Regions from separate parts of the Homo sapiens genome. Here region 2 is linked to region 1. Evidence: fine-mapped expression QTL. A gene starts in region 1. The other region holds a variant in brackets. All regions are shown on one strand. Distances are from middle to middle. Region 1 holds the start of OLFML2B (olfactomedin like 2B). Region 2 overlaps OLFML2B (olfactomedin like 2B).

Region 1 (5,377 bases):
TGACGTGGTGCCCTGCAATCATCAAATTCTTTCTCTGCTGCAAACCCTGCTGACATAGTGTAATTGGTCTGTTACTGCACAGCGGGCATAAGAACCTGTTGGTCCTATAACACTTTGACTGTGGTCAAAGACACAATCAAAGACAAGAAGTGAGGGAAGAGTAGCACCAGAAAGGTCCTCTCTCCTATTTGTTTCTTTTATCAGGAAGCAAAATATCTTGTCCGGGTGGTTACCCCTAGCTGTAAAGGAGACTGGGAAATTGAATGTCTGGCACAGGGGTAGCTGGGACTTGCTTAAATCAATTATGACTAGGTCAAAAAGCCAATGCTGTAAGAATAATGGAGTGGAAAATGGAAAGAGCTTGGGTCCTCGCTGACATCACTGAGTTGCTGAATTAAATTTTAAACAGCCAAGCTTGTCTTCTTAGAGTGGGATAATAAATGTATATTTGACTGAGACATTCCTAGAAGGATTTTCTATCACTTGCAGTCAAATGCACCCTAATGGATACAGAGATGGTATTTATAAAGGTAACTGAGCCTACACCCAGTTGGACAATTCGTAATTTCCATTCATTCAACCAATATTTATTTAGTGTCCACTTTGTTCTAGGCACTGGTTAAACTCTGAAGATGTAATGGTGAGCAAAACTAACAAGGTCCTTGCCCTCTTGAATTTATAGTCTGGTGGGGAAGACAGGCACCCCCAAAACAACCCACAAAGGAGGAATATAAATATCCATCTCTCCTGCTTCTATGAAAAAGAGGTACATGGTATTATGGGAGCATTTAATAGAGAAATTATGCTGGTGGTGGAGTCAAGGAAGGCTGCCCTGAGAAGTGAGCAGCCATCTGAAATATGAATATGCACATTCAGGATTATGTCTTTGCCCAGAATGCTCTCTTTCTCTCCCCTGCCATGGCCCCCCCTCCCATCATGTTGCCTTATCCACTGTTTTGTTGAAACCTCCCATCATCCCAGTCATCTTCAGTATCATGCTTTCATGAAATCCACACTGACCTTTCCACTAGAAGTGACCTATTCCTTATTTAAACCCCATGAGATATGTTCTTACTCTGCCTCACAATTTCAGTGCTTGTTCTGCTTACCTCCTGACTCCCACGCCCACTTTGTAAGATGTGGACTATCTCATCTTCCCATTAAATGTCTAGCAACCTAGCTTGTTGTCTTGCACTTAATCAACATTCAATGCTTACTGTAATTGATTTTTTTTTTTTTTTTGAGACCAAGTATTGCTCTGTAGCCCAGGCTATAGTGCAGTGGCGGATCTCGGCTCACTGTAACCTCTGCCTCCAGGGTTCAAGCGATTCTTCTGCCTCAGCCTCTAGAGTAGCTGGGATTACAGGTGCATGCCACCAGGCTAGGCTAATTTTTGTATTTTCAGTAGAGATTACAGGGGTGAGCCACCACACTCCGCCCCTTAACTGAATTTTAAAACTACACTTTATCGGTGGGGCACAGTGGCTCACCCCTGTAATCCCAGTGCTTTGGGAGGGCAAGGCGGATGGATGGCTTGAGGCCAGGAGGTCGAGACCAGCCTGGCAACACGGCGAAACCCCAACTCTAGTAAAAATACAAAAAATTAAACGGGCATGGTGGCGTGCGCCTGTAATCCCAGGTACTCTGAAGGTCGAGGCACGAGAATCACTTGAACCCAGGAGGCGGAGGTTGCAGTGAGCCAAGATCATCCCGCCACTGCACTCCAGCCTGGGTGGCAGAGCAAGACTCTGTCTCAAACAAACAATCAAATACACCACATTTTATCAATGTTTACCCCCATATAGTTTCAGAAAAGATTTGATAGCTTACACAGAGGAGGGTGTGTGCATGATGTCCCCACAAACCTAGACACCCAGAGCATTGAATTTTTGTCCATAAACTGAATTTTTTGAAGATTAAAATATACTAATAAGGGTTATTATTATACTTATGTCAACTATTACTTATATGCGCTAGTTTCCTTAGTTTATTACAACCCTTATTCCTCAGCATAAGAAGCAAGGTGTTTGAATTTCCCAAGGGTGCATAATATCCTTTGAAGGGGCCTGGCTCTGTTCAATATTCCGAGTGACAGTTGTCCAGGATGGCACAGTGCCCTTCCTTAAATTCACATATTGGTAATCTTCACTGTAGGTTTATAAAAGGTTGTCCTCAGTAATTGAGGGACATAGTAACATAATTGCACACTATTGAAAGTGGACTCCCTCTTAGAGATAATCTGGTAACAGAGACCCGGAGATTTGTCCCAAACCAGGAAGACAGGAAGAGCTGTTCCCTTTGGTAATCATTTATCAGGCAGTAGCTTTCCCCATGGGGACTCGCGGAGAGTGTCGGAGATGTACAGTCATTCCCCTAACTTTCAACGTTTACACAACTCAGGACACACTCTAGGAAGGAATTCAATGATTTTCCTCTGGGTGGAGGTATTACTAGGTTCTAAAGCCGTGGCAGGCAAGCAGCTACCAACGGCGCTAAGTTCAAAGCTGCCCGAGAACTCGCCCAGAGTTAAGTCAGGGAAAAGAAACGCCTGGGAACAAACGCGCCTTCTCCCCTGCCCCAGGTGTGCTAAAGGACGATGCCGCAGATCCCTAACTAGCTCAGCCTTGGAGCGAGCGCTGGGTGCCTGCGATGGAAAGTCGCTCTTCTCGCCAAGAATGGTCGAACCCCAAAACTTCAGGGACGCCGCTCGGAGTAACTTCTCTTCACTCACTTGCGATCAGATGAGAAGAAAGTAAAGCCCTTCCAACGTCACCCTCAGCCGGCGCGCGGCAGCTGAGTCCCAGCGGGGACGGGGTCCGCCGGGTACCCCTCCGCCCGAGCCCTGTGCGCTTCCAGGTCCTCCTCCTCCGCGCGGTCACTGGCTGCATCTCCGCCGCCCCGGCACAATAGAGGCTCCGCCCTCCTTCCGCGCGAGCTCTCCGCGGCTCCCTAGCCCAGCAGCCCTCGCCCAGCAGCCCGCGCCGCCACCGCCTCTTCCCTCCCCGTGTCCGGTCCCCGTGCGTCCCGAGGCTCCCCGCCGCCCGTCCCGGCGCGCACCGCGGGCGTCTGTCCGAACGCCTTCCAGCCACCTGAGCCCTCCTGCGGGCGACTCGCTCAGCTAGCCCGTGCCCGCCTCCACCTTCTCCGTCATCCCCTCTTCCTTGCGTCCGGCTCTCCACTGGGGCTGCACAGTCGAGGGCTGCTCGCGTCGGGAAGGAGATGCCCAGAGTCTCTGGGGCGCACCCTCCCGTCCCGCTCAGCCGCACCCAGCTTTAGAAGGTGCTCTCAGCAGCCACTTTCGGGCTCTAGCGAGGACACCCTCTCGCAGAAGTCCTTGCCGAGACCCCCCGCCCCAGCCATTCTCTGAAGGGGCTGAGGACACTCTTATCGCGCCCCTCATGGCCAAGCCTCGGCTGCTAGTTCTCTACTTCGCTCTGATTGTGGTTCCGGCCTGGGTGTCCAGCATTGTCCTCACAGGGACAAGCGAGCCCCCAGATGCGCAGACAGTGGCGCCTGCGGAGGACGAGACTCTGCAAAACGAGGCGGACAACCAGGAGAACGTTTTATCTCAGGTAGGATGCAGAGTGCCACGACCGCCCTTCTTGCCCTGGATGGTGGTGAGAGCCAGAAGCTGGTCCTTGCTGAAGTGTTTGAGGGCAGCTGTTTTTCCTTCCATTACCAATGGAAAGGGCTTTTGATTTTTCATGTATCGGAATATTTTCTTAATGGAAGGATATAGGTTCTCCTCGCAAAATCATAGGGTGCTTAAAGGTCATCAAATCAGGAGAAAGGAGAGGTGAAGGAAGGGAAGATGCCGCTCGACTTCTTGAGAAGAAAGAAAACAAAGTTGTTTTTGGTTTCAGGGTTGTAAAAAGTATCTCTTGTCTATGTGGCTGTCTGTCAGAATTGGAATGTGAAAACAGCCGGATATGTTGACCAGGAGGCAGATGGCATATCCCATCGGGAGATACTTTATGGCAGAGGGTGGGACACCAGGCGGGAGCATGGGGTGAAGTCAGAACAGAAGCATGTGTGATGAATGTGAGGTGACCCCCAAACAGAGAGACTGAGAACATGACGGAGTGTACTGGGAGGGGAGAGTGGGAATGCAGATGCAGGCAGCTAGGGCAGACTGTCAGTGGGGGCCCGAGTAACCCATGATAGTGATGGGCTTCGTAAAGTGTCCGTTTACCAAGTACTTAAACTTGTTTTTTCTGACTCAATCTTCAAAACACCCTAATACCCATTTATAGATAAAGACCATAAGAGATACATGGGTAGGCCGGGCGCGGTGGCTCACGCCTGTAATCCCAGCACTTTGGGAGGCCGAGGCGGGCAGATCACGAGGTCAGGAGTTCAAGAGCAGCCTGGCCAATATGATGAAACCCCATCTCTACTAAAAATACCAAAATTAGCCAGGCGTGGTGGCAGGCACCTGTAGTCCCAGCTACTCAGGAGGCTGAGGCAGGAGAATCGCTTGAACCCGGGAGGTGGAGGTTGCAGTAAGCGGAGATCGCGCCACTGCACTCCATCCTGAGTGACAGAGTGAGACTCCGTCTCAAAAAAAAAAAAAAAAAAAAAAAAGAAGAGATACATGGGTAGAGCCAGGGCGTCTGACAGTCTTCAGCCCAGATCTCATGTCTGTAAGGGGTAGTTCTCTCTGGAGTGTTTATTTTGTGCTCTCCAGAGCCGGCATGATGACGTGTGGTGGGTGTCACCAGAATCCTCAGAATGGGGGATGTCTGAAAAAGGATCCTCCAGGGCTGCCTGTACCTTCACCTCCACCAAGCCCTAGGACTGGGCCTTGTCTCCTTCCTGTAGAGAGAATAATCAGCTGCACTTTGGGATTTATCAAACACTAGCCTCCTCACTCTTCCTTTAATAATGATGCTAATGTATGCCCTCTGCCCCCCCATTACCTCCCACTGACCCCTAAATCGAAAAGACATAAAAATCTCTCACACTGGGGCTCTGGAACACTATCAACAAAAACTTTCCTGAAACCCGAGCCTCCTGTAAGGAAGGAATCCACCCAGGGTTCTCAGAGCAGGGTTATGTAGGAATCCAGGCAGAGTTTCAGAGAGCAGACAGCCACAATTTACTATCAGCCCGTAAAGAACAGCCGCTTAAGTCACCCTTAACTACACCACCTTCTTCCACTGATCCATTCTGTGTTTGACAACAGCCCTAAAGCAAATATTAGTATTAGAAGAAACCCAATCTTTGCAAGGAAAACATTACAAGTCTTCTTCCCCCAGACAGCATCCCAAGGAACATTTCTACTCAAACAAGCTCAATGCTTGCCCACTGAAATCATTAATCAAATGAAGGGAACCCTTCTGCCTGCCTAGGAAGGGAGCCCTGGCTTTGGGGATGT
Region 2 (5,377 bases), 34 kb after region 1:
GCAAAGGAAAAGTTCTTGAAGGAAATTAAAAGTGCTACTCCAGTAAACACATGAATGATAAGCAAATGAAACAGCCTTATTGCTGATATGGAGAAAGTTGTAGTGGTCTGGATAAAAAGACAGTCCAACCACGACATTCCCTTAAGCAAAATTCCCTAATCCAGAGCAAGGCCCTAACTCTCTTCAATTCTATGATGGCTGACAGAGGTGAAGAAGCTGCAGAAAAAAGTCTGAAGCTAACAGAGGCTGGTTCGTGAGATTTAGAGAAAGAAGTTGTCTCCATAATGTAAAAATGCAAGTGAAATAGCAAGTGCTAATGCAGAAGCTGTAGCAAGTTATCTAGAAGATCTAGCTAAGATTGTTGATGAAGGTGGCTACACTAAACAACAGATTTTCAGTGTAGGCAAAACAGCCATCCATTGGAAGAAGGTGCCATCTAGGACCTTCATAATTAAAGAGGAGAGGTCAGTGCCTGGCTTCAAAGCTTCAAAGGACAAGGTGACTCTTCTGTTAGGGGCTAATGCAGCTGGTGACTTTAAATCAAAGCCAGTGCTCATTTACCATTCTAAAAATCCTAGGGCCCTTAAGAATTATGCAAATCTACTCTCCTGGTGCTCTATACATGGAACAACAAAGCTTGGATAATAGCACATCTTTTTACAGCATGGTTTACTGAATAATTTAAGCCCTTTGTTGAGACCTACTGCTCAGAAAAAGAAATTATTATTTGAGACAGAATCTTGCTCTGTCACCAAGGCTGGAATGCAGTGGCACGATTTCAGCTCACTGCAACCTCTGCCTCTCAGGTTCAAGTGATTCTCCTGCCTCAGCCTCCCAAGTAGCTGGGATTATAGGCACATGCTACCACGCCCAGCTAATTGTTTGTATTTTTAGTAGAGATGGAGTTTCACCATGTTGGCCAGGCTGGTCTCAAACTCCCAAACTCAAGTGATCCGCCTGCCTCGGCCTCCCAAAGTGCTGGGATTACAGGTGTGAGCCACCGCGCCTGGCCAGGAGATTATTTTAAAAATATGACTGCTCTTTGACAATGCACCTAATCACCCAAAAGCTCTCATGGAGATGTGCAAGGAGATGAATGCTGTCATGCCTGCCAACACAGCATTCATTCTGAAGCCCATGGATTAAGGAGTCTTTTTGACTTTCAAGTCTTATTATTTAAGAAATACATTTTGTAAGGCTATAGCTGCCATAGATAATGATTCCTCTGATGGATCTGGGCAAAGTAAATTGAAAACCTTCTGGAAAGGATTCATCATTAAGAACATTCATGATTCATGGGAAGAGGTCAAAATATCAACATTAACAGGAGTTTGGAATAAGTTGATTCCAACCCTCATGGATAACCTTGAGGGGTTCAAGTCTTCAGTGGAGGAAGTCACTGCAGATGTGGAAGTATCAAGAAAACTACAATTAGAAGTGGAGCCTGAAGATGGGACTGAATTGCTGCAATCTGATGATCAAACTTGAATGGATGAGGAGTTGTTTCTTATTGATGAACAAAGAAAGTGGTTTCTTGATATGGAACCTACTCCTGGTGAAGACAGTGTGATCACTGTTGAAATGGCAACAAAGGATTTTGAATATTACATAAACTTAGTTGATAAAACAGTGGCATGGTTTGAGAGGCTTGACTCAAATTTTGAAAGAAGTTCTACTATGGGGTAAAATGCTATCAAACAGCATCACACACTACAGAGAAATCTTTCATGAAAGGAAGAGTCAATTGATGCAGCAAACTTCATTGTTGTCTTATTTTAAGAAATTGCCACAGCCCCCTAGCCTTCAGCATCCACTCCTCTGATCAATCAGCAGCCATCAACATCGAGGCAAGACCCTCCACCAGCAAAAAGATGACGACCCACTGAAGGCTTAGATGATCATTAGTATTTTTTAGTAATAAAGTATTTTTAAATTAAGGTGTATACATTTTTTAGACATAATGTTATTGAACCCTTAATAGACTGCAGTATAGTGTAAACATAACTTTTATACTCACTGGGAAACAAAAAAGTTGTGAAACTCACTTTATTATGATATTCGCTTTATTACAGTGGTCTGGAACCAAATCCACAATATCTTTGAGGTATGCCTGTATTAAAAATTTAATTTACTAGCATGAATTATACAATTCATCTTTATATTGTGCAATGTTAGTTTTAAATGCAAATATAAGATCTTTCAACTTTTATGCAGAATCCACCAAAATGACTCATTTCATATTTTGTAACTCCTTCATACCTGTGTATGTATGTTCTTATTAGAATAGTGGAAATACTGCACAAAACTAATTCATCTGTTTTTGTTTTACTTGATATATGAACATTTTAACAACACTCCCTGCCTTCAGCTTACTGAGTGAGGAAGGACTAAAAAGAAACGGAACTATGAGTTGCCCTATCCTTCCCTCTTCTTTCGTATCAATTTCAACATAGGTTGTTGTCTAATACAGGGAAGTAACACAAGAAAGAATATGATAGGGTTCCTTGACCATTTGTGTTTCTTAGAACACCACTGCCTTCTT[C/T]CTGCTTTCGGAGCACGATCTGGTTCAAATGTAAAATGTGGCCTCTGGGGCAACACACCTACCTTGTGCTCACTTTGAATCTCACTGAACTCAGGCACGTAGTGGGTCTACCTGCAATTCTGTGCTCATTGGGCATAGCAAACCCTATATGCAAGTGGGGGACAAAGAATGTGGCCACACATATCTTGCATTCTCCTCTGCTCACAAACAGGCTGCACTGTTAGACTTCACATAAAATACAAGTTCGAGGGTGAAAATATTAAGATATTCAAGATGGTGACAGCAGATCATTAAATGAAGGGCAGCCCTTCAAAGCAAGGGTCCTGTGTGATTGCACAGATCATATGCCCAAAAAGCCAGCCCTGGGTTTACGGTGAATACCATAGCCCTGGCAACTATGGTGAATACAAGCAGCTAGGTGTGGGCAAGAGATCTCAAGCTGGCAGCCTGAGGGCCAAATTCATCCTAAGATGTGTTTTTATGTTCTTGAATCTGAATGCCTTCAGGTCAGCTCTTCCAGTTCACCACAGTGTCTTCTGCCACCTTTTGTCTCACACTCAGCCTGACTCATCATTTCAGCTCCTGCCTGACCCCTGTAGGCATCTGAGTTTGAGACCTCTGAATGAAGGCAGATGACAACAGTAAGAATGGTGATGCAGGAAGGGCTGATGTGCTAGGATGGGGACTCTGGGCTGCACTTGGTGGTTGGAGATGGTGAGTCATTAAGGGTTTAAGAAGATGTGCATCTTGGAAAAGCAGCACAGGGAATACTGGGGAGGATAAGTTAGAAGTGGGCAGAGATGAGCCAGAGAGACAAACTGGCGCAATTGGAGTGATCCAGGCAAGAGTTGGTGAGATCTGAACTACGCCATAGAGGTGGAGGATCAGGGTCAAGATGTTACTCAGTGCTGAGTTGGAATGTGGGTGAAGGGAAAGGGGACATCAGGGATGACCTAGGTTTCTGGCTCAGTTGGTGGATGGTGTGCCATGGCTTTCTCTGGGACAGTAAATACAGGAGGAGCAGGCTGTGAACTGAAGCAAATGATTTCCATTTTCAGTCCTTTAAGTTTGAGGAGCCATGAGGACATCCAGAAAGAAAGTGCCTTGTAGGTAGTTGGATGGATTCACGGTGCTCAGAATCAGGACCTGGGCTGAGTTGTTGGCAGGAGCTGAGTCTGCAGGAAGAATGAGGAGGGAGGAGGCTGAAGGTGGAACTCCAGAGGGTGGCATTTGAAAGCAGGCAGAAGAGGAAGCACTAGCCAAAGAGCTGGAGAAGGCCAGACCAGGCAGGTGGGCGGGACCAGGAGAGAGTGGTGGTGGAAGCTGGGGGAGGAAGGAAATGCCTTCTGAGGTGGGTGGGTGGGTGTCAGCGGGGGTGGGGGGTGGCTACCTCAGTTTCCAAGCAAAAAACAGAGGCTTGACTAGAATAAGAGGACTGGAGAACACCCCAAGGGGCAGCAGTCGGGTTGAGGGGCTGAGAGGCATTGCTGACGAGGTTAGTTGGGGAGCAGACGCCCAAGGACCCTACTGGGGAAGCTTGCCAAGTAAGCACCAGAGCTGAGAGCTGGGGAGAGCCAGGAAGGCTCTTGCTTGCTGATTTATTTCTTTTAGAATGCTGAGATTTGAGGAGGTTTATATGCTGAGGGGAAGGGCCCCTTCTTTTCAGACCCTGGTAACGTTTGAAACAGGACCAGCTGTCTCCCAGGACTGTTGGTTAAACGACAGAATACATAGAAAGTGCGTAGTAAATGTCAGTGTCACCGGCATCCTTGGCAGCCCTGCTCTGGGAAAACCTAAGATGAGATGCAGACTGCACTCTCCTGTCTGCAGTTCCTTTGAACTTTCTCCCATCTTTCTGTCATCCCCCTTGAAGAGGAGTCAACATACAGTACCTTCTCTCCAAAGCTGATGGTTTGCTGCCAAGTGTGGGAGCATCTGAGCTGCCCCAGATTCTCAGAGCACAGTGATGCGTCTGGGTCTCATGGTTTACTGATCTCTTCCCTTGATCCTGTCTTCAAATGCTCTGAAATCATTTGCATTTGTCCTGCCTGGGCTCATCCGCAGGGCAGCAGTGTTTGCTCTCTCTGAGGGCATGTGAAAATGCAGCCTGAGGTCCTAGTACTAGGACTATGAAAATGCAAGCGGGGACTCCCCTCTTCCTGCAGAAATAAGGGTGCCCTAACCCAAGAAGCTGACTCCATCTGTATCCATTTCCTATGCCTCCAAATTGCCACAAGCTTAGTTGCTAAAAACAGAAATGTACTCTCTAACAGTTCTGGAGGCCAGAAATTCAAAATGAGTCTTGCAGGGCTAAAATCAAGGTATCAGAAGGGCTGGTTCTTTCCAGAGGCTTGAGGGGAGAATCCGTTTCTTGCCTTTTCCAGCTTCTCATGGCTGCCAGCATTCTTTGGCTTGTGGCCACATCACTTCAGTCTTTGCTTTTTTCATCACATTGCTTCCTCCTCTCTTGTGGTCAAATCTCCCTTTGCCTCTGTGTCATAAGGATACTTGTGACTGTATTTATTCAATAGGACCACCCAGATAGTCCAGTATAGTCTCCCCATCTCAGGATTTTTTTTATGTAATCACATTTGCAAAGTCCCCTTTGTTTCCTTTTGTCCCAATCACAGGCTCCAGGGATTTGGACCTGGATATCTCAGGGGTATATTACTCAGTCTACCACATCATCTTCAGAGGGGACTCTCCATGCACTCTGGTGAAGGAGGCAGGGCATGCATTACAATCATTTTACTTCTGAAGAGATTAAAACTTTTTGACATTACAGTTGCAACAGACTTTGGAGTTGGTGGCTGGGCCAAGAGCAGAGCCAGGCCT

The links. PIP is the estimated chance that this variant, and not a neighbour inherited with it, causes the effect.
Region 2: its variant is fine-mapped to the expression of OLFML2B in whole blood (TOPMed, PIP above 0.99).

Annotation. Positions count from the first base shown.
Region 1 is chr1:162,021,452-162,026,828 of GRCh38, reverse strand. It overlaps OLFML2B (olfactomedin like 2B), which reads left to right and starts at 2,960. Exons shown (of 8, transcript NM_015441.3): 1 at 2,960-3,572. The coding sequence starts at 3,399. RefSeq lists silencers at 2,336-2,630, 2,699-2,848.
Region 2 is chr1:161,987,088-161,992,464 of GRCh38, reverse strand. The region is part of intron 6 of OLFML2B (olfactomedin like 2B); the gene reads left to right. Among named protein-coding and RNA genes, the nearest start is that of OLFML2B, 34 kb to the left of the region's middle. The variant C/T (reference allele first, on the strand shown) is at 2,543.